Linked DNA regions of Homo sapiens. The protein of the gene in region 4 interacts with the protein of the main gene of each other region in a pairwise test. Each region holds a gene or a part of one and is shown on either strand. Other genes may lie near its edges.

Region 1 (7,031 bases), on a different chromosome or scaffold from region 4:
AAATGGGTATCATCATCCCAGTGGGAAGATGAGCAAGCCCAGGCACAGACAGAGTAAGTGCACAGTTCAGGATCACACAGCTGGCAGATGAAGGAGATCCGTTAGCCAGGATGGTCTCGATCTCCTGACCTTGTGATCCGCCCGCCTCGGCCTCCCAAAGTGCTGTGATTACAGGCGTGAGCCACTGTGCCCAGCCGATTTCTTAAAATATTAAGGGTAATCTGAGGGTGATCAATTTTTCCAAAGCATCTGAAAGAGATTGGTTGCTCCATTTTTCCTTTTCTGTTTTAAAAACAATCTGGTCGGCCAGGCGCGGTGGCTCACGCCTGTAATCCCAGCACTTTGGGAGGCCGAGGTGGGCGGATCACGAGGTCAGGAGATCGAGACCATCCTAGCTAACACAGTGAAACCCTGTCTCTACTAAAAATACAAAAAAAATTAGCCAGACATGTCCATGGAATTAGAGCCCAGGGTGTGCTGGGGCCAGGAGAGATGATGTCTGGAGGTGAACTTGAAAAGAAAATTGGGGCCAGATTGTGAGGAGCTTCATATGTTATTATTTGGAGGCTGAGTTTTTATTCTTTGGCCTTGGAAATTTATGGATTTTTTTTTTTCAAAAGGTGGACTATTGTGATGCTTTGTAAAAACGGCTCTCATGGCTTAGGAGGAACATTTTAGTGTAGTCTTTAGGGTTAGGGTTTTGGAATCAAGAGGTGGGTACAAACCCTGTCTCCTTCATCTGCCAGCTGTGTGATCCTGAACTGTGCACTTACGCTGTCTGTGCCTGGGCTTGCTCATCTTCCCACTGGGATGATGATACCCATTTTTCAGGTATGTTGTGAGGATTACATGAGACCCACATTACTTGGCATCAAGTAAACTTGGAATCAATAATGATAATATCTCTTTTCTGACTCTTGGACTTGAGAGTCCTTCAGGATTTTGAAACCATGTTAGTTGTAGTGACTTCCTTGGAGCCCTTTTGGAAACTATTAGAAGTTTCCTGGGGCCAGCTTGCTTGTGACACCCCCAATGGGAGGTGTCCATGACTGAGGGCAGGGTGTATGTAAGGCTTTGTTCACCTCACTGGACTTTAGTTTTATAGTGACTTTATTGAAAATATCCTGCAGTAATGCAAAAACACTTACTTTTTAGGAGTTAGAAATGGAGTCAATATATCTTCAAAAGCACCTTGGGGCCTGTTTAACTCAAGGTCTTGCAGAAGTGGCAAGAGTTCGCCCAGTGGATCCGATAGAATATTTAGCATTGTGGATTTACAAGTATAAGGAAAATGTGACCATGGAACAACTGGTAAGTAGGAATCTCCTTCTAGGAAATTAGAAGAAAAAAAACTGGTCCAACTTGTCTGCTTTTAAAAAAGTTTAACATTATTATTTTTCTGTTATAAAAATAATGTTTATTATACAAAAACTTGAACAACATGAAAAGCAGGAAGGAGAAAACATTACCCAAAGAAGACTTCTATTTAGATTTTTAGGTAATTCCTTTCATGGGAAGTCTTTTTTCTATAGATTTATAGATTTACGTTTATGTACTTGTGATCATACACAATGTATAACTTTAATATTGTGCTCATTATTCAGATAAAATATCTTCCCAAATTATTATATCATTTCCACAGGGATGGGCTATAATTTGCTTAACACTTTCCCTAATTGTTCCTATTAAGTGCTTTCAAGATTGCTTTTACAAATTGCTTTCTCGCTAAGAAGTCGTGTGCTGTTGTTTTTAAACAATGCTAGAGACAAAAGGAAATGGCCAAGCTGGAGCGTGAAAGAGAATTAGCTCTGATGGAGCAGGAAATGATGGAGAGGCTCAAAGCAGAGGAGCTCTTACTTCAGCAGGTGAGGCAAGTAGGAGAGTTCAGAGGGGACTGGAATTAACGATGCCAACCTCAGCATGGCACAGCCTAAATGTTGATAAACTTCCCAGCTCCAGTTATTTAGATATGGCTTCCTAATATCTTCATCTTTATGGATGTGTGTGTCTTCTTTGCTGGAGAAGCAGCAGCCATGAGTTTTCCTGAGTGCATTCTTGTATACACATATACACATTCCTTTCCACACTGTTGTTGCTGATACAAAAGATGCCATACCTCCAGGTAAGAGGAAAATACAGAGTGTGCTGTCACAGAAGGCAAAGGGAAAGACTGTTTTGGTGAGATCTGAGTGGTCAACCATATCTATTGCTGAATGGAAAAGTGTTCATGAGAGGCCACCGTAATTTGGCGGGAACAGTGTGGATGGAGTGGTGGGGGTGGGTGGACTTAGGCAGGGGAGGTGGAAAATGTAGGCAATGCTTTCAAGGAGATTTTGATAGCAAGGAGAGATGTTTTTGTGTTTGTTTTGATTTAAGAGCACAGTAGTGGAGGAGTGAGTGGGTGACATTAGGAAATAGAGTGGATGATTCGTAGGGTCAGCTCACCATGGAGATGAGAGGAAATGGGCCTGGATCATAGGTTGGGCAGGGAGAAGGCACTTCTTTGATTATAATCAAGGGAAAGAGGAGAGAATGGTGTTGGTGGAAGCACCTTCTGCGTACAACTGTTTCTGTCTTCTTTATGAAGTAGGCACCATGTTCACTTGCTAAGAACAAGGTTGTAAGGTAGGAGGTGTGGGCAGAGTGGTGAAGTTAGAAATGACAGCTTTGGAGAATGGAAGAGAGAGTTGAGGGATATAATTTAGCATTACTTGGTAGCAGTTGAAGATCAAGTACTGATAATCGTGCCATTTGATTTGGTTATGTGATGATGTGATTCTCTTCACTTGGGCCCAGATGTCTGAGTGAAGAAGTGGAGCAGGCAGACCTTTTAATTGAAGCAGGATTGGGGTAGCATGATTAGGGAGCTGAAGATATTGGTAAGGGAATTGTTGAAGGGATGGGTCATGGAGTACAAGCTGGAGAGAGGAAAGTTCCAGAATGGCTTCTGGACTGATTTAATTTATAGAGAGCTTCTAAGCTAAATTTAAGCCACTTCCATAGTTCTACCAGATAATACTTAACCCCAGAGTCTTGACTCAAATTTACATATTTAAAAAGGGGAAAGAAGCCTATTATTTGAGTATGTGGATAGAAAGAAAAATATAGACCTGGCAAATAGCTTCTCTGACTAACCTCCTATCCCTGATATTGAGGTAGAAAACTGCAGGCCCCTTAGAAGGATAGGGCTGTTGAAAACTCTACTCCTTCTGAGTCTTCATTTTCAGTCATTGGCTTATTCTTGAAGGGAGGTTAAAAAGTGTTGAGTTGGGTGTCAACTGTCATCCAAACAGGCCAGGTGCTTCCTGCAGCAGCCACAACTGTGGATGAGGAGCCATCCTTCCTCTTACAGCTCCTATAGCTGGTATCTGTTCCTGTCTATCAAAAATAAGAGAATTCCCAGAGGTTCTCCTTCCCCTAGGCAATTACATCGTAAGTGGGAGATACATAACTCTCTTCGGCTCGACTACTTTATCCTACTTATGCATAATTTGGCAATACTAGCAATAACAAGTTTCTCTAGCCATATTATGTTGACCGGTATGAACTAATCCACTGTGCATTGAATCCTAAGTATTGTAGTAGGGCGGAAGAGAAAATAATATTATACAGGAGATGTTATGGCCAGTTAGCGGAGTGGATTGGTGTGCAGAAATAGATAGGAGAGATCGATCAACAGAGAAAGGCTTGAGAGAGTGTGGCTGAGATGAAGAAAAACAGAGAGGCCTCTGGGTGCCTTCTGAGTCATGTAAGCTGGAGGTTGGGAACTCTGGTTATTTCCTTGCTGGTTGCAAAAGCAGTTGTCCTCATAGTCAGTACCACTGACTTGAAATTCCTTGATATTTTAGGCACTCTCCACAAGCCTAGTTTTTTGTGAACAGGGAAGTATTTTTATTGCCATTTTCTATGTAAGAGCTTAGTTTTGAAGTAAGAGCTTTTTTGTTTATTTGTTTTGAATGGCTTTCAGTGGTTTTGCTCATGTGTGAGGAAGGGGATTAGGTTTTGGAAGTTTCTTGAAAATGTCAAGAAGCTGGTTGTTTTGATCAATCTGACTGTTATTTAACAAATACACTTTGCATTATTGTTGAGAGATTGGAGTTATTTAACTTCCTCTACCAATGTCTGAAAGTTGATTGAAACTGTTTCTGCGTTTCAGCTACCTACCCCATCACTTTTATCTTAGTAGTGATAATATAGGAATACTAAGAAATTACCTTTAAAAGCTTTTGCAAATAAAATATCAAGCACTTTATTATATCTTTACTTGTAAAAATTTATTATTTTAGAATGCATTGTCAGATAGTAGACATTTTATGCTTTACAGGCCAAGAGGCAAATTTGATGATATTATGAAGGCATTATGGCATATTATGTAGGAATAACAAGAGAGAAAATGAATTTTTGCAAATGTTTTATTGATGAAATTCAAATAATAATCACTGAATATAAATTTTTTATTAGATAGGTTTACTATTGAGAATTTAAAAAAGTTTTTAAAAGATAACATTTCACTTGGTTGAAGTTCAGCGTTAGTGTGGTCTATCATCAAAATCTATTTTAAAATATTTATCTGCGGGCCGGGCGCGGTGGCTCACGCCTGTAATCCCAGCACTTTGGGAGGCCGAGGCGGGCGGATCACAGGGTCAGGAGATCGAGACCATCCTGGCGAACGCGGTGAAACCCCGTCTCTACTAAAAATACAAAAAATTAGCCGGGCGTGGTGGTGGGCTCCTGTAGTCCCAGCTACTCAGGAGACTGAGGGGGAAGAATGGCGCGAACCCAGGAGGCGGAGCTTGCAGTGAGCCGAGATCGCGCCACTGCAGTCCAGCCTGGGCGACAGAGCGAGACTCCGCCTCAAAAAAAAAAAGTTTATCTGCTAATGCTGATCTGTAATGAGGTTTTATGCATTTCATCCTTGAAAATGTCTTTTTACATAGTTACTGTCAAAAGTTGCTATCAGTCTATGTGTGTATAATTTAAATTAAGCATATTCATTCCTTAGAAGGTATTTCTAGAATTTTGTTTTTCTCTTGCTGTTTGCCTTTTAGCATGCATTACTTTGTAGAATAGCCACTTCCAACTGAAGGTTGATGGAAGCTTCTTAATTGCATAGTTAAATGGATTTCAGAATATGGAAATTTCCTTTGCACTTACGTTGAGGCCTTACAAACACTCTGGAATTGTAGTTCGAGGTTGGAAAATACATCCACTGACAATTTGTTTGGGAACGGAGATCTAATATCCTGTTCTAGTTTTGACAGCACTGGACGTGTATAAAGCAGCTTTACGTTACTTGTGATTCAAACAACATGAGCTGTTGTTGAAGTGAGTTTACTGCAGTGTAAGTTTTACATATGAGTGATGTTTTGCCATGTAATTTTAAAATGAATTAAGAAACATTATCAAGTCTGCAGCCAAAGCTAATTTCCAAAGCCATTTAATGTTTGATAATAGTGGTTGGGAGTATTTCTTCTCATTAAGAAAAATTTAAATCCTGTTTACCAATAACTTACTCGAAAAAGAAACCAAGAAAACAATCTTATTTATAATAGCTTCAAAAAGAATAATATACGTAGGAATAAATGTAACCAAGGAGGTGAAACATCTATACCTTGAAAACTGTAAAACACTAATGCAAAAAATTGAGGAAGACACAAATAAATGGAAAGATATCTTGTGTTCATATATCAGAAGAGTTAGTATTGTTAAAATGTCTATACTACCTAAAGTAATCTGCAGATTCATCTCAATCCCTATCAAAATTCCAATGGCATTCTTCACAGAAACAGAAAAACCCAATTCTAAAATTTGTATGGAAGTACAAAAGACCCTGAATAGCCAAAGCAATCCTAAGAAAGAAAAACGAAGTTGGAACTATCAAATTACTTGATCCAGAATTATATTACAAAGCCATAGTAATTACAACAGTATGGTATTGGCATAAAAACAGACACATAGACCAGTGGAACAGAATAGAGAACCCAGGAATAAGCCCAAGTATATACGGTCAACTAATTTTTGACAAGCCCTGCAAGAAAACACAAAGGGAAAAGGATAGTCTCTTCAATGAACGGTGTTGGGACAACTGGATATCCACATGCAAAAGAATGAAACTGGATCCTTGTCTTCCACCATACACAAAAATCAGTTCAAAATAGATTAAAGACCTAAATGGAAGACCTGAAACTGTAAAACTCCCGGAAGAAAACATAATGTAGAAAAAGCTCCTTGACATTGGTCTTGGCAATAATTTTTTGGGTATGACACCAAAAGCACAGGCAATAAAAGCAAACCTAAACAAATGGGACTAGGTCAAACTAAAATGCTCTTGCACAGCAAACAATCAGCAAAACAAAAAGGCAGCCTATGGATTGGGAGAAGATATTTGTGAACCATATATCTGATAAGGTCTGATAAGGAGTTAATCTCCAAAATATATAAGGAATGCAAACTCAATAGCAAAAAAAAAAAAAAAAAAAAAAAAAAAAAGGATCCCAATTAAAAAATGGGCAAAGGACCTAAATAGACATTTCTCCAAGGAAGATATAAAAGTGGCCAACAGGTATATTATCAAAAGTGACAAGTAATGTTCAACACCGCTAGTCATCAGGGAAGTGCAAATCAAAACCACTATGAGATACCACCTCGCCCCTATTAGGATGGCTGCTTTTTTTTTTTCTTTTTCGGACACAGAGTCTCGCTCTTTCACCCAGGCTGGAGTGAAGTGGCGTGATCTTAGCTCACTCCAACCTCTGCTCCCTGGGTTCAAGCGATTCTCCTGCCTCAGCCTCCTGAGTAGCTGGGATTACAGGCACCCGCCACCACACCTGGCTAATTTTTTTTTTGTATTTTTAGTAGAGACGGGGTTTCGCCATGTTGGCCAGGCTGGTCTTGAACTCCTGACCTCAGGTGATCCACCCACCTCGGCCTCCCAAAGTGTTAGGATTACAGGCATGAGCCACCGTGACCAGCCTAAGATGGCTGTTATCAGAAAGGGAAGAGACATGGCCGGGGGCAGTGGCTCACACCTG
Region 2 (7,031 bases), on a different chromosome or scaffold from region 4:
TTAAACAGTAAATTTAGTTACCAAATTTCTTTAATAATTTTATTAAATAAACTTATGCATGTAGAGGGCTTAAAAAAAGGTCATGGGTACATGGTAAGTGCTCAATAAATGCTAGCTATTATTAGCTATTTTACTCTTGGAAAGACTTCCATGATATTTTGTTAAGTAATGTAAAAAAGTTACAAAACCATATCTAATATGAGCTTATTTAGTCCTCAGGAAAAAAAAACAAATATCAGTAGATATGTACAGGCATAAATTCTGCTCTATAAACACAAAAGTTGGTATAAGGACAGAAAAAATTGCAAGGAAAAACCAACTTAAAAAATAGGGAAAAGGCAAGGGCAGGACTTTCATTCCTTTCTTTATGTACTTTCATGCACAAAAATATAACTTTTATTTTATTGTGTCTTCCAAATTTTCTATAAATGAAAGTGTTTTTCATATTAAGAAAAAAAATTTATGTTTTTAAAAGGCAATTATGGTGATGATAAGCACAGGAAATGGGGATAAACAGCACCATTCTGAACCACCAAAACCAATGGTAGAATGGCATGAGTGATAAAAAATGCATAAAATAAAACAGCAAGCAGTCTTGTTGGGCAAAAACTGGTTAGAAAATTATACAAATGTCCTACAGTTTTTTAAGATAGTCAATTATGTAAGGGAAATAGCACTTTACCAGAGATCAGTAGTTTGTTGTTTTAAAGGGCAATTCCAACAGTATACAAATATTTGAAATGTGTAAATCTTTCCACTAAACAATCATACTTCTAGGCATATAAGAGAGCAAGCATAATATATATTGAGGACATTGTTGAATTGCAGTATTATTTGAAATGGCAAAAAACTAGAGACAATCTTAATATCCATCATGGACAAACTGTTAAAAACCAACACATATGGTACAGCCAGGCTATTCTGGGATTATTAAAGATTAAAGCACATATGCATGTATAGCACAAAAAAAGAAGTTACAGGTTAATTAGAACAGTATGATCACCATTTTTTGTTAACTCAAACTACCTATATATATTTAGGGGAAAGTTCTGGAAAAGTTACAAAATGTCACAAATGACACTTCTTGGGATGGAATAATTTGGGTACAGGGAGGGGTAGAAGAGCAGGGCTTTCACCTCTTCCATAGCATATCTTTATATAGCTTGAATGTTATAGGAGCATGTATTATTCTGTAAAATTTTTAGCAGCAGAGTATTCAAGCACAATTAAATGAGATAATGTGTGAAAGTACTCTTAGCTCAATCCCAAAAAGTAGCAGCCCTGTCCTTGAGTGGAAATCTCGACTTAGACAAATCCCACCAATCAGGTACACTTCTAGCACCTGTTCCACATATGTACGCATACCCATGAGCAAGGGTAATGCAGTCTTCATACCTGAGGGAATGTCTGTGGGAATCTGGCCCATCAGGAAGACAGGGAACAGAAATACAGAGGCCAGACTTTTCCCCAACTATCATCAAGGGCAAAGCCATGGAGTACTGGCAGACCTGGCAAAAGTGGACTCTCCCCCTGGCTTAATGAACAATCCAACCTTGGTAGGAGGAAAGAGGGAAATTGACTTTATTAACACCCTCTTCAAAAACAAATGCTCTTCATCTTTCAACCTTCAATGAATGAAATTACTAAGAAGGTGCATTTCCGCTTCAAGAGAGCAGCTCACAAAGTTAAATACGGTAGGGACTTAATCTATGTACACCATCTGATATTCCATTATATACTGACTTTTTATTGCTAATGTTTTCACCTGTTTTGGACTTGGCTGCCAATTAAACTGTTAGTTTTCCAGGGCGCTGTCACTTCAGGGAAGCTGCACAGGGTACTGAGAGAGCGCTGGACTGAGTAGCATCAGAGGCCATGGTTCTCAGCAACACTTCTGTTATGTACTGAGAAACCTTGAACCGGTCATAATTTCTTTGGGTTTCAATTATGAAGTCAAACTAGATGACCTTTAAAGAATTTCAAGTTCTATTATCTTTTGATTTTTACATTTCTCATAGGACCCAATATGGAACTGAGTACAGCTATTTATATCAAAATTATTTTGTCTTCACTTTTTTTTTTTTTTTTGAGACGGAGTCTTGCTCTGTTGCCCAGGCTGGAGTGCAGTGGGGTGTGATCTCAGCTCACTGCAACCTCTGCTTCCTGGGTTCAAGCAATTCTCCTGCCTTGACCTCCCGAGTAGCTGGGACTACAGGCGCATGCCACCGCACCTGCTAATTTTTGTATTTTTAGTAGAGATGGGGTTTCACCATGTTGGCCAGACTGGTCTCGAATTCCTGACCTCGTGATCCTCCCACCTTGGCCTCCAAAATGCTGGGATTACAGGTGTGAGCCATCACGCACTGCCTTTTCTTCACATTTTTATAACAATGTGCACACATTGTCTTTACAACCCAATGTTTAGCAAATGAGATTCTACCTAATTTTAATAACAATAAAATAATTTATTAAGCATGTAGCAATTACTTGGAACAATTCTAAGCATTTTATGTGTACGAACTTATTCAATCTTACAATGATCCAAATACTTTCCCCCATTACAGATAAGGAAACTGAAGCCTGGAGTTTTCTTGACCTAGGATACAGAGCTGGAACATGACAAAGCCAAAATTCAAACCCTGGTAGTCTAGCACATTTAACATTACACCCTACTATCTTTAGTACAGGAGAGGGGGAAGGATACAATATTCAAGCTGCTTTTTTTTTTTTTAAGTTTTGGGATACATGTGCAGAACGTGCAGGTTTGCTGCACCTATCAATCCGTCATCTAGGTTTTAAGCCCCGCATGCATTAGTTATTTGTCCTAATGCTCTTCCTCCCCTCAAGCTGCTTTTTCAAACCGAACAAGTATTCTCTTCTTTACCACCTCACCTGAAACTAAATTATAATCAAATAATTATGCCAATTGAATAACTGGAATGGGAACTACACAAAAGCAGACAAAATATTAAATTCTGGATGTAGCAATTCAAAAAAATTTTGAAAAACCTAGCAAATATATTGCCAGGCTTTCCCTGCACTGCCATCCCTTCTCTCTGTGCTTCTAGAACACTTAACATGAACTGTATTACAGCACAGATCTAACAGGAATAAAATTTCTCTCCCACCACAACTGAGTTCTCATTTGGCAGGCTTGTCAGCATATTCTTTGTACCCCACTTCGGTAACAGGCATCATCACTCACTCCAAGGTTGGAGCCCAGTCAAGATTGCTGAATGAATGTCCAAGTTCAAGGATGTATTAGTGTAAGGTTTGCTGCTGTTTTAGTATGATAGACAAGTCAACACTTTGGCCATGCTGCAATTTGGAAGGGCTTTCAACGTAATCTTGATTGGTAACAGCTCAGAGAAGGAGAAAGGTGATTCAGGGTATGAATCAAGAGCATGGCAATTTACAAACAGTGTATCAGTTTCAAATTCTTCCAATGTACACACAGGAATAGCAGCAATCATATTCTTAGAAGATTATTAAGAAACAAGAAAAAAAAGAGGCACTTTTAGAAGTCTATCAACTTTTAAGGTTAAAAGTCAGCTAAGAAGTCCAAATCAAATTTTAAAATTACTATTTATTGGTATTTCACTCCTCAAATAATGAAATGGTAATAGCATCTACTAAAGGCATTGGAAATAACAAAGAAACCAAACATAATTAATAAATCTACTCATCGTTTTTTCAATGATTTAGCCCAAATTCAATCATTGGTTATAGTTGTCAACGTGTGGTCCTGGGACCAGCAGCATCAACATCACCTGACTCAATAAAAATGCAAATTATCAAGTGCCACTACAGACCTACAGATTCAGAAACTTTAGTGGTGGGAGAACCTCCACGTAATTCTGACAAAGTTTGAGAATCACTGCTGTGTTCTATAGAATGTGGTTCAGTATAAATTAGTATTCTATTTATATGCACTTTCAATTAGAGAACACCAAAAAGGAATTCTTATCTAAGGGTCCTACAAAATGGATTCCAAGAATGATGTAAAAGTGTTCCAAAGCACTAAATGGAGGCTGAAAATAACAGTCCTAGGGAATGCCTGGCTAAGCAGCTTATTAAACCTTAGAGGATGGGGGGAAACTCTGAAAAATAAACAGTTCATCAGCTGAATATTCATTTATCCTATTCACATACTCTACAGCCCAGCAAGTCCACTCCTAGTGAAACCCAATCGAAACTCTTGCCTACGTATGCCAGGAGGTGTGCACCTATACAGCAGCATTCTTCACAATAGCGAGTAGCACAAGAGTATCACCCTGGAAACAACCCATATACCACCAACAGGAGAATGGATAAATTATGCCATATGCACAAAATGGAATATTATGCAGTAATCAGAAAACTTCAGTGACACATAATATAAATTTCAGTATTATAAAATGAAAAAATTTTCAGAAGATAGGGCATGTAATATATACAGTTTTAAATTATGTGATGCAATAAAACTATAAAAGACACCGAGAGAATGATGAATATAGGATTCAGTAAATAGCTGCCTCAGGTGAGGGACAGAGGAAAAAGGAATGGAGGGGCCCACAGGGTTATGCACAGGGTTAGGTGGTACTTACTGTATTATTAAAACTATAAATGGACCAATTAAACAAACGTGTCATGAGCCAAGGAATATAAACTAATTCTTTACACCTGAAGTCCTTTAAAATGCTTTAAATACATATATATAAAATGTTCCTCCAATATTTCAAACAATTCTAAATTCTACCCAGTCAGTTTGGCTGTGGAGGCACCAAGAGCCCTGGGTCCTTGGCCTTACTGCCAACTCAGGGGTTAAAATGTTTTGGGTCCCAAAACCCAAAGCCAATGACCCTCTTCCTTTAAAAGTACAAGAACAGGCAATTTGGGCTAGAGTTTCAGAGGATCTATGAAGCCATCCATTTGCAAAGGATCCATGGATGGCAAGTTAATAACTCCTGTACTAGCTAATTATGTGAAACTGGTAGGAGAGAAGCTGATGATGAACTCAAGAGCACCTAATGCATGCCAGATGGGGCTCCATTAGCTGTTATCACTTAATCCTCACGCTAGCCCTAGGAAGGAGTAAAGATAGCACTGGTTTATTGATGGAAGAAACTGAGGCAACAGATTAGGTAACTTACAGTTACAAACCTGGAAGACAGAAATAAAATCCAGCTATTTAACCTGGAAAGACTAAAAACTAGCTATTTATGATTCCAAAGCCTCACAGGCCTGGTTTCCTCCTGACATTCAACAAATATGCTGAGCAAATGATATCAATTCTCTGAGCCTATCGCCTCATTATAAAACAACATGGCTAATGATGGGTTGTACTTACAGATTATTTCTATGATGTTGGCTTGCTTTTATAGTCTAGATCCTATGCAGGGGGATATTCCTGAAATTTGGCTATAGAATAGAAAATAAAATCGAAGGCTATAGAATAGAGAATAAAATAGATAGGAAAGCACAACCAGATTACAATTAACAGGCAAATGAAAAGTATAGGCAGTGGCTGGAACCCATCTTGAATTTTAAGTATCTACTTTACACTATTTAGGCTCTATATACGATTTCAAAATTATTTAGTCCTACAATTCTTTTAGAACAATATTTCTCTACAAATCTCCTCCAAACTTAATGCTTGCAAAATAAGTTCTATTTGTAGCACCGTGGCACAAAAATATATTCTCAGTGCTGACTGTATGCCAAGAACTACACATGAAGTAACTTAAATACTTTTTTGCTTTTTATCTTAATTTTTAAAATTTTTTTACAAAAAGCATACAATACTTTTATAATCTGAAAAAAAAATCTTTGAGACAGATATTATAGTAAACTGGGCAATTAATGGTCAGGGACCAGCTGGCTGACTTAGTCAGTGACTGAGGATAGTGAAGAACAGGTAAGAAATAATTCAGGACATGGTGACAAGTACACAAAAGGGAGGCATCTACTCTCTCACATAAAAACCTGTCTTTGGCACTTGACAGATAATAGTGTCATTTAGATAAAGGGAACAGAGGAGTAAAGTTAGTAAAACTGGGTTTGGGCAAATGTGTGGAGATAATGAGCTTTGTGTAGCTTACTGGGTTTGGAGATGCCCTTATGAGACATTCACATGGGGATAAACTCTAGGCCTAGAACTCACAAGACATCCGAGCACATTTAGATAGATGAATTCATAAAGAAAAAAGGGGCAGGAGAACAAACCCCAAAGAACATCAACATAAGCGAGTGAAGCAGACCCAGACACAAGAGATACAAAGAGACAGGGGAACGGACTTCAGGAAAGCCAAGGGAGAAGACTTTTAAAGAGAAAGGGTGATACACAGCAGCAAATGCCATAGAATGGGCAGGTTTTGAATTTTAAAAAGTGTTGAATTCGGTGATTAGTGACTTAATGACAAAGCTGAGGGGTAAAAATGAAAATCAGACTTCAGAAAGATGATCACCAAATAAGAAAAGGAAAATCACTTGTTCAAGAATCTCAGTTTAAAAGAATGTTAGTTTCTCTGAATGTAGAGGCTTTATTAGACGCTCATGGATAGATCTAGCATGACAAAAAAAAAATCCTGTCTTTAAAGTCTGTTCTTACTCAATTACAGCATTTTTATATCAAGTAGAAATATTAAGTGCTCAGTAAGTATGAGCTATTTTTCCAGGCATTGTTCTGGATACTAACCTATTTTTCTAATCACACCCCTACGAAGCAGGTATTGTTATTATCCTTCATAAATGCGACAACCAGGGCACAAGATCACATAGCTAGTAGTGTGGTAGATCAAACCGAAAATGTGACTCAAGAGAATATGAGAAAAGGATATGTGTGAAGCAAGAGTTAAAAGATGAGAACAACTGGAGTTAAGATTGTTCTGAATGTTTAACTGCTTGTAGTTTCATTTCTATTTAAAAACTTATTTTTGCTAATTTGAAAGACTATTTCTTCTCTCATCTCAGAATCCTACATTGCTAGAGTCTGACATTTTTATGTCTGACACCCAGATTCTGTACTGCATTATAACTGTGTTATTTCTCCT
Region 3 (7,031 bases), on a different chromosome or scaffold from region 4:
ATATATACTTAAAAAATCCTACAGTCTTCTAAGTGATCAGCATACCCACTGACTTAGACCTTTGAGGATCCTCTCAGTTTCCAAGTTCTGCTTAGTCCCAGCCCAAATAACTACATTGTCAAAGAGACCAGGTCTGGACTCGGTGTGCCCTGATGACAGGTTACGCCAATGCCAGCTCCAAACAGGTCTCAATTTTTCCCGAAAGATATACTTTATATTAATACATTTTGATACAACTAGAAAGGTGCCAAAATCAAATATAATCAATTGCTTCTTAATCTGTGTCCCCTTCCACTTTATTCTTAGCAATCACTATAATGTTTTATTTATAAAAATTTGTGTGTTTGACTCCCTATATAGACTCTAAGCCCATGCTGGGTGGGGATAATGATTCATTGATTAATATTCTCATTACCTGCATATAGAACAGTGACTGACACAGAGAATAATACGAATAAATGTTTGTCTTGTTTGAATAAATCAAATAAAAAGTATTTCTATAATCAAACCACAGTCCATAATTGAGATAATTCTGCACTTTTTAGAGTAGAGATCTCCAAAATAAGATGTCTACAGATTTATCAGTGTACATATGTCAGAATCAAATACATTATTATGGATAGTTTATGAATCAATATAATAGAAAATTATGGTCACGGACTATAACATTTAACTTTAGATATTTGCATTGCTAGGTCATGAAACACTAATACAATTTAATCTTGCATTTGCAATAAATCCCTAGATTCATGAAAGAATGATGAAATAATATGGAATTCAATTTTTCTGGCCATTTAGGTTTTAGAGCTTATGTGAGTATGAATGACTTAAATATCTCAAAACTATGAACTTATCAAATTCACCTTTTAAAACTGTTAAAGAAACTGAGTGAGAAATAGAATTGTGCATTAAGATGCTATATATAATTGAAAAATAGAAACAAGGTAAATATAATTTACAGCACATTGACACGAACCCACATTAAAACTATAAGACTGCCATTAAAAGCACATTTAAAAATCTGTAAACTATCAAAAAAATGTCCGTCTATAGCATAAACTATATCTACTGGCTTGGGGATAAAACACATCCAAAATTAAATTTCCCAAATTTAAATTCTGAATGTTATCCTGGTTTTAAGATTTATACCACAGGCTGGAAAAATTATTTGAAAAATTATGCATTTCATTAGCTCAAAAATAATCGTTCTGAAACTGACAAAAAAGAACCAGAAAGCAGTGAGTTTCAGCTAAATTTAAATGTTTATGCAGATACTTACCATAGCTACCAGCAAATGCTTATTGTATAGTCGCTTGAATTAATGAAAAAATCTTTATTGGAAATAAGATCATTAGCTTAGAAAATACTGAGACAAAGCTTTAATAAGAAACAAAAAACCAGAAAGTTCTATTTCTTACTTCATTTTTCTTCTTCCTTTTGGAAATCTTGAAACTGTCTGAAGATTTGTCATATTTTAACATTTGACACACTTTGTTTCAGATGCATGAACGTTATTTTACATCCTAGTGGGCAAAAGAGCAAGGAGTATCAGGTATTAGCTGGCACAAAAGGAAATATCCAAATGTGGAGGCGTGTACGAGTGAAGACAGACTCTGCGTAGGCATCAGAGTGAGATTAGACAGTGAGAATTTGCTCCAAGGAGCACCCATACCTGGTTTTTTTCTTGCAGATCAATTTGTGACATCTTGAAATCAGGACTTTGAGAGTTTGCACTTAATCTATTTTTCTTATCCAAAAGCTCTTCCATTTCTTTCACCTGGATCTTCAGCCTTCTATTTTCTCTCTCCAGTCCCTGCTTTTCTCTTTCAAGTATTTCCCTCTTGTCCCACTCCGAGGTATTTTCAGCTTGCAATCTCTCTAGCTACACACAGAAAACACAAAGAAGCAGCATGCAGCATTTGCAATTGCCAAAAGATAATGCCACCCACAACCAGACTCCCATTAAGAAAAGTTCATGGATATGTCCACTGATACAATTTTAAAAAGAAAATTCTATTTGTTTGAAAACATGAGAAAAATACAAAAATCCTAAGATCAGGCCAAACCGTAGATAAATATACTTTTCCTCTTGGTTCATGTAACTATCTCTACAGCCATATGTACCATATTTTTCAAATATATGTGTCAAGTGAAGAACTGCTGCTCTTGGGAACATTAATCTCCACTCTCAACTGATAAACATTCTCAGTGGAGAAGACACAATATCATTTCATGGGCAATTTTGATTGGATATATTTCATTTATTCATTCACTCAATTATCTAGGGAATAGACAGATGCTATATGGATCTCTCTATCTCTATCTCTCTATCTCTCTATCTATGCAACATTTGCAGTTGCCAAAAAGTAATGCAAAAAGTAATTTAATTTTATATTGAAAAAATATATATAATTTATCATTTTATATTTTAAAATTTTACATTAAAACATTTTCAACATTAAATTATATAAAATTCAAACTATACCACAAATAAAATCGTATTGGGACATGGCCACGCTCATTTCTTCACACTTTGCCTATAACTGCCTTCACACACAATGGGTAAGTTAAGCTGTTGAGAGAGAGACCATATAGGTAGTAAAGCCCAAAATAGTTACTTTGTGGTCCTTTACACTAAAGTTTTGTCAACCTCTGCCCTCTTCCCATGGTTCTCAACCAAGGCTGCATGGTATATCAACATGAGGAGATTTTTATTACTATCAATGACCAGAAGCCTACTCTAGAAATTCTGATTTAAGATAATTTTAATATCTCCTTTGGTTTTTGTTATTTTAATGTCTTTAAGTTTTAAAGAGGCAATATCAAATGTATTTATTTTCTGCAGTTTTATTACATCTAAGTGCTTATTATTATGAGATGAAATTATATTCGTCTGCTATAATTTTTCTGTGGACATTGTAAGTAGAAGTGAATAGTAGCTTTTTTGTCTCTAAATTATAGTCCTGAGCTATGCATTCTAATGTGACTTCACCATTTATTCTCTGGATAAGCTTAGTCAGGTAACTTCATCTACCCCAATGTAGACAACTTATTTAATCTGACAAGGTTTGTGAGAAGTGAAATTAATCAAAGTAATTAGAAAGCACTTTGTCTAGCAATGTAACACTTAAAGGAGAAACACTGTGGTAATATAAATTTTTTAAATGTATGTTTCTCTCATATATTTAGGCATATGGATATCGAGACATCAATGTAATTTATTGCATAAATCTATACAGCAGAGTAACTCTTTACAGTAGAAAATCTATTAGAATCTCATCCTGGTCCCACCATTTACTCATTGTCTAATTCTGGACAAGAAATTTATTATCTTATTAAGTTTTCTTACTAGTAAAATTAGTATGATACCATACATATAATACCATAAATACAATAGCACAAATACCATATTTGTGGTATTGTAGGGACAGAAGAGGGTCAACTACTCAAAATTCCTTGCAAACTATTTAGGATGATTAGAGTATGAGGCATTTTAAAAATATCTCAAAAGGATAAAAATTCTAAATTACTTGTTTTAACATTGTTGATTATAATGGCTTCATTGCAACATACTTTATAATTATTATACTGTTATAAAATCTGTTGCTATGACATGCTAAATTCTAAAAGCCCAACAACTTAGTCAACATTTAGAAAAATGTTACATTTCAACAATATCCTTTATAGTATCATAATAAATTATGATATAAAAGCCTAAAAACTGCTTTTTCATATATATATAATTGTACCATTATTGTAGAAAATGTTCTGTTCCCAAATCTAAGAGATGTTCTGGCTTCCAAAATGTAGGAAACCAAAATTACATTCTTGGCACTAGACCTCATTTACCAATTATATATAATAAACTAAGGGTCAAATTTTAGATGATGTAGTTTGACATTTGGGATGCTTGTTTGGGAATATGAGGTGAAAATATTATATCACAATTTAATTTAGTACCTGCCATTACTTTCATTGTTAAGATTAATACTTAAAGTTTCTATCATTGCCTCACTTATCAGAATAAAAATGATAAAGTTGCCACAAGAAGGCAGCAACTTAGCAATGAAAAATTAATATAAGGAGAGCAAATGTATTTTTGGGCAAGGACAAATATGCTGTGTCAAGTCTTTGTGAACTTGCAGTATTCTTTTAAATGTTAAAATTAAATAAATTGATTTAACATTAAATAACAGATAACAAGTAGAACCAAGGTTTTAAATAAGTAATACATGGTCTGAATGAATAAATTTTAACTCTTAAGATTTTTTTTAAGTAATGATTTTAGCAGTAGCAACAACAAAGCTTAAATAATGCCTTCTGATGTTTTACTATTGGCAGATTTATCAAAACATACAAATTATTTGATAAATATATGTGTATAACATATATTAAAAAGTAAAAGTCTTATAAAATTATAAGAAGTTTTAGTTTTTATTTTGTAAAACTGTTTCTTATCACATCATTCTTTTCCAAGAATCATATGAAAATTCACTAACTTAAAAAGCATTTAATTGCATGTACCTTAAAATGATAAATAAAAAGTCAGGTAATATTTTAAGCTCTCAGAGTTTATCATAAAAATTACAATAATTTTATCAAATGGAAATAGAATTCCATTGCTTTGCTTCTGATGATGAAGAGAAACTCCTAAAATATTTTAATTCTAACTCAACTGTGAATTTTAACCAATAGCGTGTTCTAGCATTAAATGAATTTCAGATAATGCAGAAATTACTGAAACCTGTTTTCTGAAAATTTTAATGTAAAAGTACATTCTTTGTACAGTAAGCACTAAAATATTTGTTCACTTAATGACATCAATTTCTTATTAAACGTCGAGAAAAAGTACATAAATATCCAATACTACACTTACTGAATGAATATTTATTGAGCTTATTTATGTATCAAGAAACAAAGAGGAACTGAATATATGACTTTAAAAATACAAATAGAATATGAGTAACATTGGGCATCTTTTTACAAAGGAAAAAAAATTGAGTGTCATAGAAAGGCCTGCAATAAATCAGGTAAAAGGAGAAGGTTGTTTGAGGAAATGATTGATATTTAAGCTGCAAATTGAAGTTTAATAAGGCAGAAAAGCACAGCCAGACCCAGAGTGTACCAAGCACAGAAAGCAAGAAAAATGTTTGAACAGTGCAAGACCAAGAAGAGTCTGTGCAGTTATGGAATGTTAGGATTTGGGGAGAACATGGTATAAAAGGAAACTGGACAAACACGGACTGGTTCTGAAAAATAAGTATGAATATCAGAATCAGTTGAGTTGCTTGTAAAAACTGTAATATTGTGATTATTCCGAAGGATAAAACATTGGATCATTTTCTAAACATAGCTATTTACTCATTCTTCAACTGCCATGGCTTGATATTGTTGAAAAGATACTGACAATTGTAATCATTAACAACAACTGGAATGTAAGCTTTATGAAACCAGGACTGTGTCATTTTGCTCATAAGCCCAGCACCAGACACACACTGTATGTGTGCTCCATAAATAACTGTTAAGTGAAAGAGAAAGCAGATAATGACAGTCTCCAGGAAAAAGCCCTTCTGTATTTCAATGACAATGATTACACACAAAGCAAAATTAAGACAGCACTCTAAAAGAATCCAGTTACTAGACTTACCATAACATAACATGAAAAGGACTTCTCCGTACATTGGCTCTGAACTCTTACTGCTATTGCCAGAGCTGTTTTACATTTTATAGTAGTGAACACAGTGAGGCAGAGAGGATTTTTAATAAAATAACCTACAGATGAGTCCCAATTCTCCTTTTAGACTGATTGCCTCAATTTTTCTTTTTTATAACATAAGAAAACTCTTTCCTACAACCTAGTGTTATGAGGGAGAACTGAAATCATTTAGAGAAAATATTTATTAACTTCCAAATTCAACTCAAAAATGTCTAAAGTCATAAATTTATTTCCTAAAGAAGAAAACATCAACAGCCACTTCAGATACAAAATAGTGTATTTACTTTTTCCTCAAGTTGTACCAAGATGACAATCACTTTTTAAATGGACCTAGTCAATGGAGAAAACTCCCAAAAGAATGCACTATATGCCACTTGGCAGGCCAGTGAAGAGTCACCTAAAACCAATGTGAATGTTCCAGTAATTGATTTGCAAATATTCAGAAGGTAGCAGCTGGGTTCAACTACACTCCCTGTAATTGAGATATGAGAGCCATTGTCTAATGCCAGACACAACTATTTCCTTACATATGTATTGATGTTATACCTATTTTTAAGCTTTGCAGTATCCCTCAAGATTTGAATGTGTTTATCTTTCAGTCTTAAATTACATTGAATTTATTTGCTAGACTTATTTAGATGTCTGTTTTGTAATATCCAAATAAATCAGTCTCTTAAAGTAATTTTTTGTAATCAATACAAAAATAGATGACTATGGCTATAAAATAGTATCCTTTGAAAATTGCATAGTTTAGAACGTGAACACAGACTAAATCTCACTCTCTCAAGCCAACCTCCAAAGATCAAAAATGAGAAAAAAATAAAATCACTGGTAGCTGCAAACCTGTCAACACAATAAAGAGGCTTAGACTTATAGAAACTTGACGGATATGTAAGAGGTGCAATAAATGTCTGAGGGCAGCAGAGACTTCTCTGGAGACCATGTGGGAGCAGAGTCAGATGGGGATGGTGCAGAAGAGAAAACATGCGCTATGGTGGATGTCCTGTAAAGGTAGCCACATCACCTTAAGCAGGGAAATAACTGAGAACAGATCTCAGACCTGGAGAGCCAGAACACAAGCTACTATCAGAAATGTAATAAAGGAGATTAGAAAGTACAAGGGTCATTGTTTTCAGGTTTTTCAAGGTCATGGGTAGCACTCTAGATTGCAAGGGGTATCTTGGAAAGCAGGGCTGTCATTTAGAAACTTCCTGGAAAGGGACAGGAGGAAAGCAAGAAGTTGATATTAAGGGAATTATCAAAGAATCATAAGACAAATTGATTTTCATCCTCCTACCCAAAAGCTTGGATTTTT
Region 4 (6,561 bases):
CAAACATAGTCTGGCTTGAGGGAAGATGCCAGTATGTGATCATAAATTGGACAAAATCATTCAAGACAGCCGCATTTTAATCAGATCAAATTTCAAAATTTCAAATATCTATAAGCATTTTATGTTCTTAAAAACATGAGAAACTTGCAAGATATCATTAAATTCAAAGGTTTCCAAAACCAGTTTGAAACACATTTGTATGTCTTAAAACCTTTTGTGAAGTTTAGCTGTATTTAGACAAGTAAAATTTTATTTACGTATCTCCAGAGTCAAAATACAAAACCCAAGCGATCAGGGCAAAGTGGAAGCAACCAACCCCAACCTCCCCGCATGGAAACAGATAGTGTGCGCTGGTCACATCCAGGGACGTGCTCCATGCAATCCACAAACTAAGATCTGCCCCGACCATATTATATGGACCATATAAAAATTAAAGTAGCTGTATATGTACTTTACTGACATAGAAACAAGTCTATGTTATATTGCTAAGTATAAAATTCAAATTTTAGAATGTCAATAGTATAATCCCACTGAAGTAAAAAAAAATTGATATGTTTTTCAAGTTTGAGTCTATAATCTTTGTATGGGAATTTTTAGTAAAGCGTATATATTCATCTACAGCTTAACTTTTTAGTCTTAAAAAAGGCAAAAGTGAAATTTCGACGATGAAATCCACGGTTGTAACCAGCAATACCACACTTGCACGGTTGCAATACTCGCGCTCTTCGCACTGTAACCTCTGGAATCCACTGTAACCTCTCGAATCCGCTGTCACCCGAGATCTCTTAACCTGGCGGTCCCCTGCCAGGACTCGGGCGGCCGTCAAGAGTGCGCAGGCGCAAGCGCGGCCGCCGTCGGTGGGGTTTTATGTGCTGTTGAGACTGCTGTTGAGCTTCTGGGCCTTTTTAAGACTGCCTTCCAAAAGACGACGTGATGACTCTAAAGAGAAAGGAAAATTTGTTGCGTACGCAGAAGGGCAGGCTGGGCGCACTCTGAGCGTCTTTCGGGGACCGACGGCCTCGCCCACGTGCTTCCGGGCACCAGCGCGCCCAAAGCCCGTGCACTAGGAAACGCACAAAAGCACCAGCGGGCGAGCCCGAGGGCGAGCCCACGGGTAGCCAGGAGGCGGCGAGGGCGGCTTGTCTTCCAGAGACTGGGGAATCAAGAAAGGCAGAGCCACCTCCTCGGCCCCAGCGCAGCAAGTGCAGGAGGCAGGGAGGGCGCAGCGCCCCGCCGTCCACGGTACCCGTGGAACCCGGTGCGCGCCCCGGGAGCTGGGGCGGCTCAGGCCCAGCGTGCCCAGAAAGCCAACCACGTTGGTCAGGAGGACGTTCTCCCACTATCCGCGATCCTCAGGCTCTGATTAAAGTCAAATTAAAAGGAGCTATCCGTTCCGGTATCTGTTGTTACTCTTGTGATAAATATGGTGTTTGATACGAAAGTATCTTAATAGTCATGCTGCCAATCAAAGAACAAAACACGTAAAGCCTGTGCGCTAAGAACACGAGAGCATTTCGCTCCTCAGGAGGTGCAGTTTATCTTGTCTCCTTTGTTTCATATATAATTCCAAGGAGAATTCCTTGTTATCAACACATTTTGCTCTTTGCCTTTGGGGGATGACATAGGCATATTGCATTTGATCAGATTAGTGTTAACCTTCCACCCACGTTTTTACTACATGCTGTACCATTAATACAGCAGGATTTTATACCTTTAACCGCAAAATTCAAGAGCAGAAAAATACTCAAATTGTATGTTAGTTTAACATGAAAACGAGTTATTTCAGCCCTGATAGGATACTTTTAAACCAATACTACCTAACAAATATGTTTCTTATTCGTATAAGCCCATACACATGGTTTTTTAAATGAGTTTTATAAATAATAATTAGCATTGAGGCCCTGATCTAAGTATTTGAAACTCTGTTACTCTTCACAACAATCCTGAGATGGGCATATTTTCCTCATTTTGCAGATAAGGAAACAGGCACTGGGATGGTAAGAAACCCAGGCCATCTGGCCCCTAATAGCCTTTTACCACCATGCTAAAGCTTTACCCATTTTTGAGATCCAAAATATTACATAGTGCACACATATTTGGTAACCAAATCAGGATTAAACATTAAAGTTAAGGGCCAAGCACAGTGCCCTGTAATCCTAGCATTTTGGGAAGCTGAGGCGGGCAGATCGCTTGACCTCAGGAGTTCAAGACCAGCCTGGAAAACATGGTGAAACCCCATCTCAACAAAAAAATACAAAAATAGTTGGGTGTGGTGGTGTGTGCCTGTGGTCCCAGCTACTTGGGAGGCTGAGGTGGGAGGATCGCTTGAGCCAAGGAGGCAGAGGTTGCAGTGAACCAAGATCACACCACTGCACTCCAGCCTGGGTGACATAGTGAGACGCTGTCTCAAAAAGAAAAAAGCAAAATTAAAGTAAGAACATAATAAGAAATATGTTTGGCACTGTGTTACGGGGAGAAAAAATCAATAGGGAGATAAATCCTGCTTTCAGGGTAAGTGCAATTTGCTGAGTAAAAGAAATATTTTAAGATACCTTAAAAAAGAAAACAAAGGCTGTTGTAAATTGGATATTCAATTAAATATTCTTGGGCAGATTGGCAGATGATAGATCTAATGAACTTGGGGTTTATAAATACACAGAATGCCACATTTTCACTAATACCTTATGTTTTGGGTAAAGAGTAAAACCAACTTTGAAAATGAATTGTGTATGCAATTATCTTAAAAATAAAGATTATATAATAAGTCACATTATCTTGCATTATGTGTAATATCTAGGGGGTTAAGGCACTCTCATTCTGCTAATATTCACAGCACTCCTATTATATAACCATTTCAGAGCCCTGAATTATAATCCTAACTAGGTGACAGTTACTGAGTAAATTTTGCAATGTAGATTTATTATAGAATATAATTGTATTACTTTTTCTCTATTCATTGGCATCCTTTTATATTTGGGGTTTGACACAATTGCACACAACAATCTTTCTACTAAAATATTCCATAGAGTTGGCCAGGCATGGTGGCTCACGCCTGTAATCCTAGCACTTTGGGAGGCTGAGGCAGGTGGATCACCTGGGGTCAGGAGTTTGAGACCAGCCTGGCCAACATGGTGAAACCCCATCTCTACTAAAAATACAAAAGTTAGCTGGGCATGGTGGCATGCGCCTGTAATCCCAGCTACTCGGGAGGCTGAGGCGGGAGAATCGCTTGAACCCAGGTGGCGGAGGTTGCAGTGAGCGGAGATCGTGCCATTGCACTCCAGCCTGGGCAACAAGAGCGAAACTCTGTCTCAAAAAAAAAAAAAAGATTGAGGCTCAAGCAGGTTAAATATTATACACACACTAGATCACATACTAAGCCACACAGGTTGTATAGAATAGAAATCCTATTCCAGGGCTTCACAGACCTCAAATTGTTTCTGTAAATGGTTCATGTTTATTAATTTACCTTCTCAAAGTCAATATACTTCAAAAACAGAACTGCTATCATTAAAATGTGGTTACACATAACCTAACACATAAGTGCTTTAGAAGAAGGGAACTTTACCATTTGATTTTTTAAAATATAGATCCTAACACTTTTGTGTGTGTGTGTTTTCTCATGAATATGGTAATATTATTGGTCCTTTTTCCAAAGATATGGTATGAAATTAATTTTTTGCTTAGAGTCAGGATCTTGCTCCATCATCCAGCCTGGTGTGCAGTGGCACGATCATAGCTCACTATAGCCTCAAACTCCTCAGTTCAAGTCTCCTCCCGCCCCAGCCTCCAAAGTAGCTAGGACTATAGGAGTGCACCACCACACTCAGCTAACTTTATTATTATTTTTTGTAGAGGCAGGTCTCAAATTCTTGGCCTCAAGTGGCCCTTCCACCTTAGCCTCCCAAAGCACTGGTATTATAGGCATAACTCACTGCACTTGGTAGAAAATTAATTTTCATTATAAAAATCAGAAAGAAAGATCTTATTGTCTGATGGCCAATACCCTGAATTTCATTCCAACTTCTGGTTTTCTACATTATATGTAGGTACCAGTGATTTTGTGCCATTTTTATTTCTTCAGATTTTTCCTCTTCTACAATTCTCCCATATGTGTTATTATTTGAAGCCCTGATCACAGCTCTGAATCATTTCTATTCTTTTGTCTCCCCCAACTCTGGTTCAAAACTTCGGTAACTCATTTGCTACGAAGTCTAGAATCTCTCTTGCAAGTGAGCTGACCGGTTGGGCCAAATCGCCTTGGAAGGGAAGGATTGTTAGGAAGTCAGTATGTTGCTAAGATGTCTTGCTAATTTGCTGTGTAAGCTGCATAGAGTGTCAGGGGATTCTCCTTTCCACTGATGAATTTAGGTGTGTGTTATGACCTGTATCAGTGATTCTATTTGGATTGATTAAGGTTGCAATTTTTTATCCATATGAATGTTGCACCTAGTTTTTCCCTGTAATTGGTTAAACAAATGTCTGCTGTTTGCATTTTAACTCTTAGCCAATACCTGCTGGAAGTGATTTAATGCAGCTGGAGAATGACACTAACAATCATTACAGCCTGCAAAGTGTGAAACAATTTCATTGTGCTTTGTGGTCTCTTTAGTCTGAGGACTGATAATGTGCAGCGGATGAGACTTGAAAAAAACGTATTTTATTATAATTTAAGAAATAATGTAAAAGAGGGGTGAGTTCTGAGGCAGCTCCATGCTGTTTGTCTGGCATGAGCTTGTTTTTATAAGAATTCACTTCAAGTGTGGAAGGGAAATGCTTTCATCTGAAAGGGATAGCTGTGCTTCATTCCGGTTTCTCCCTCCATCTGATAAAAACTCTTGCTGAGTGACAGCACAGATGTAGCTCATTTGGAACAAGTGAAGGAAAAGGAGAAAAGGGATGAGGTGGAGCGAAGGAGTAGTCAGTCATGTTTCCAAAGTCCCGCGGTTTCCCCTAGTCTCTTCATTCACTCCAGCGGCCCTGGTGTCCCCCTGCAAAGTGCGATGCCCTCGCCCCTGGCCCTACGCCCCTACCTCCGGAGCGAGTTTTCCCCATCGGTGGACGCGCGGCCCTGCAGCAGTCCCTCAGAGCTACCTGCGAAGCTGCTTCTGGGGGCCACTCTTCCTCGGGCCCCGCGGCTGCCGCGCCGGCTGGCCTGGTGCTCCATTGACTGGGAGCAGGTGTGCTTGCTGCAGAGGCTGGGAGCTGGAGGGTTTGGCTCGGTGTACAAGGCGACTTACCGCGGTGTTCCTGTGGCCATAAAGCAAGTGAACAAGTGCACCAAGAACCGACTAGCATCTCGGCGGAGTTTCTGGGCTGAGCTCAACGTAGCAAGGCTGCGCCACGATAACATCGTGCGCGTGGTGGCTGCCAGCACGCGCACGCCCGCAGGGTCCAATAGCCTAGGGACCATCATCATGGAGTTCGGTGGCAACGTCACTTTACACCAAGTCATCTATGGCGCCGCCGGCCACCCTGAGGGGGACGCAGGGGAGCCTCACTGCCGCACTGGAGGACAGTTAAGTTTGGGAAAGTGTCTCAAGTACTCACTAGATGTTGTGAACGGCCTGCTCTTCCTCCACTCGCAAAGCATTGTGCACTTGGACCTGAAGCCCGCGAACATCTTGATCAGTGAGCAGGATGTCTGTAAAATTAGTGACTTCGGTTGCTCTGAGAAGTTGGAAGATCTGCTGTGCTTCCAGACACCCTCTTACCCTCTAGGAGGCACATACACCCACCGCGCCCCGGAGCTCCTGAAAGGAGAGGGCGTGACGCCTAAAGCCGACATTTATTCCTTTGCCATCACTCTCTGGCAAATGACTACCAAGCAGGCGCCGTATTCGGGGGAGCGGCAGCACATACTGTACGCGGTGGTGGCCTACGACCTGCGCCCGTCCCTCTCCGCTGCCGTCTTCGAGGACTCGCTCCCCGGGCAGCGCCTTGGGGACGTCATCCAGCGCTGCTGGAGACCCAGCGCGGCGCAGAGGCCGAGCGCGCGGCTGCTTTTGGTGGATCTCACCTCTTTGAAAGCTGAACTCGGCTGACTGAAAACCTGGTCAAGATAAGTTTTTGTCTGATTCTATTTGTTTTTAAAGGAAGTGGAGATGTCGAAGAAAACATATTTGTAGGATGGAGTTTTAGAAAATAAAGTTACTAAAAACTCCTTTAGTCTCCAGTGCTTTTTCTAGGACACATTAGCAAAGCTACAAGTCTAGTACCTGTTGTCTCAGTACTGTTAGTAACTAATCTTATTCATATAGTCATGTGCTTTGCTTTCCATTGCTAGTATTTCATTTATTTAAATTTGTTATTGATAAAAGTTTGTCCAAAATAGAACTCCACTGCAGAAATGTCAAAATTTTCTATAAATCCATATATATCCCATACCTACCACATAAATTCCAACTATTAATGGTGTAGTTGCTCCCACACCAAATCAGTAAAAACTTTTAAAAAAATAAGTAATGCTTTCCTACTACTCCCCCCAGTAAAACTTCTTGTTTGTAATGACCTTCACTCATAAAAGTCATACACTGAGGTACATTTACATTCAAAGGAATT

Evidence for each region.
Region 1: the proteins of MOS (region 4) and DYDC1 interact in binary tests that used the Homo sapiens proteins (3 or more experiments, as listed by UniProt).
Region 2: the proteins of MOS (region 4) and SSX2IP interact in binary tests that used the Homo sapiens proteins (3 or more experiments, as listed by UniProt).
Region 3: the proteins of MOS (region 4) and CCDC102B interact in binary tests that used the Homo sapiens proteins (3 or more experiments, as listed by UniProt).

Annotation. Positions count from the first base shown.
Region 1 is NC_000010.11:80,346,735-80,353,765, reverse strand, and holds part of DYDC1 (DPY30 domain-containing protein 1), read left to right. Parts: intron 1-1,148; exon of another isoform or gene 1,149-1,155; 5' UTR 1,156-1,164; coding exon 1,165-1,311; exon of another isoform or gene 1,312-1,329; intron 1,330-1,763; coding exon 1,764-1,865; intron 1,866-7,031. UniProt on the Homo sapiens protein: Functions as part of axonemal radial spoke complexes that play an important part in the motility of sperm and cilia. Plays a crucial role during acrosome biogenesis.
Region 2 is NC_000001.11:84,680,433-84,687,463, forward strand, and holds part of SSX2IP (afadin- and alpha-actinin-binding protein), read right to left. Parts: intron 2,036-7,031; exon of another isoform or gene 1,766-2,035; intron 1,553-1,765; exon of another isoform or gene 1,396-1,552; intron 1-1,395. UniProt on the Homo sapiens protein: Belongs to an adhesion system, which plays a role in the organization of homotypic, interneuronal and heterotypic cell-cell adherens junctions (AJs).
Region 3 is NC_000018.10:68,892,070-68,899,100, reverse strand, and holds part of CCDC102B (coiled-coil domain-containing protein 102B), read right to left. Parts: intron 1,883-7,031; coding exon 1,673-1,882; intron 1-1,672. UniProt on the Homo sapiens protein: During interphase, forms fibers at the proximal ends of centrioles to maintain centrosome cohesion. During mitosis, dissociates from the centrosome following phosphorylation to allow centrosome separation. Contributes to CROCC/rootletin filament formation.
Region 4 is NC_000008.11:56,112,425-56,118,985, reverse strand, and holds MOS (proto-oncogene serine/threonine-protein kinase mos), read left to right. Parts: upstream 1-5,003; coding exon 5,004-6,044; downstream 6,045-6,561.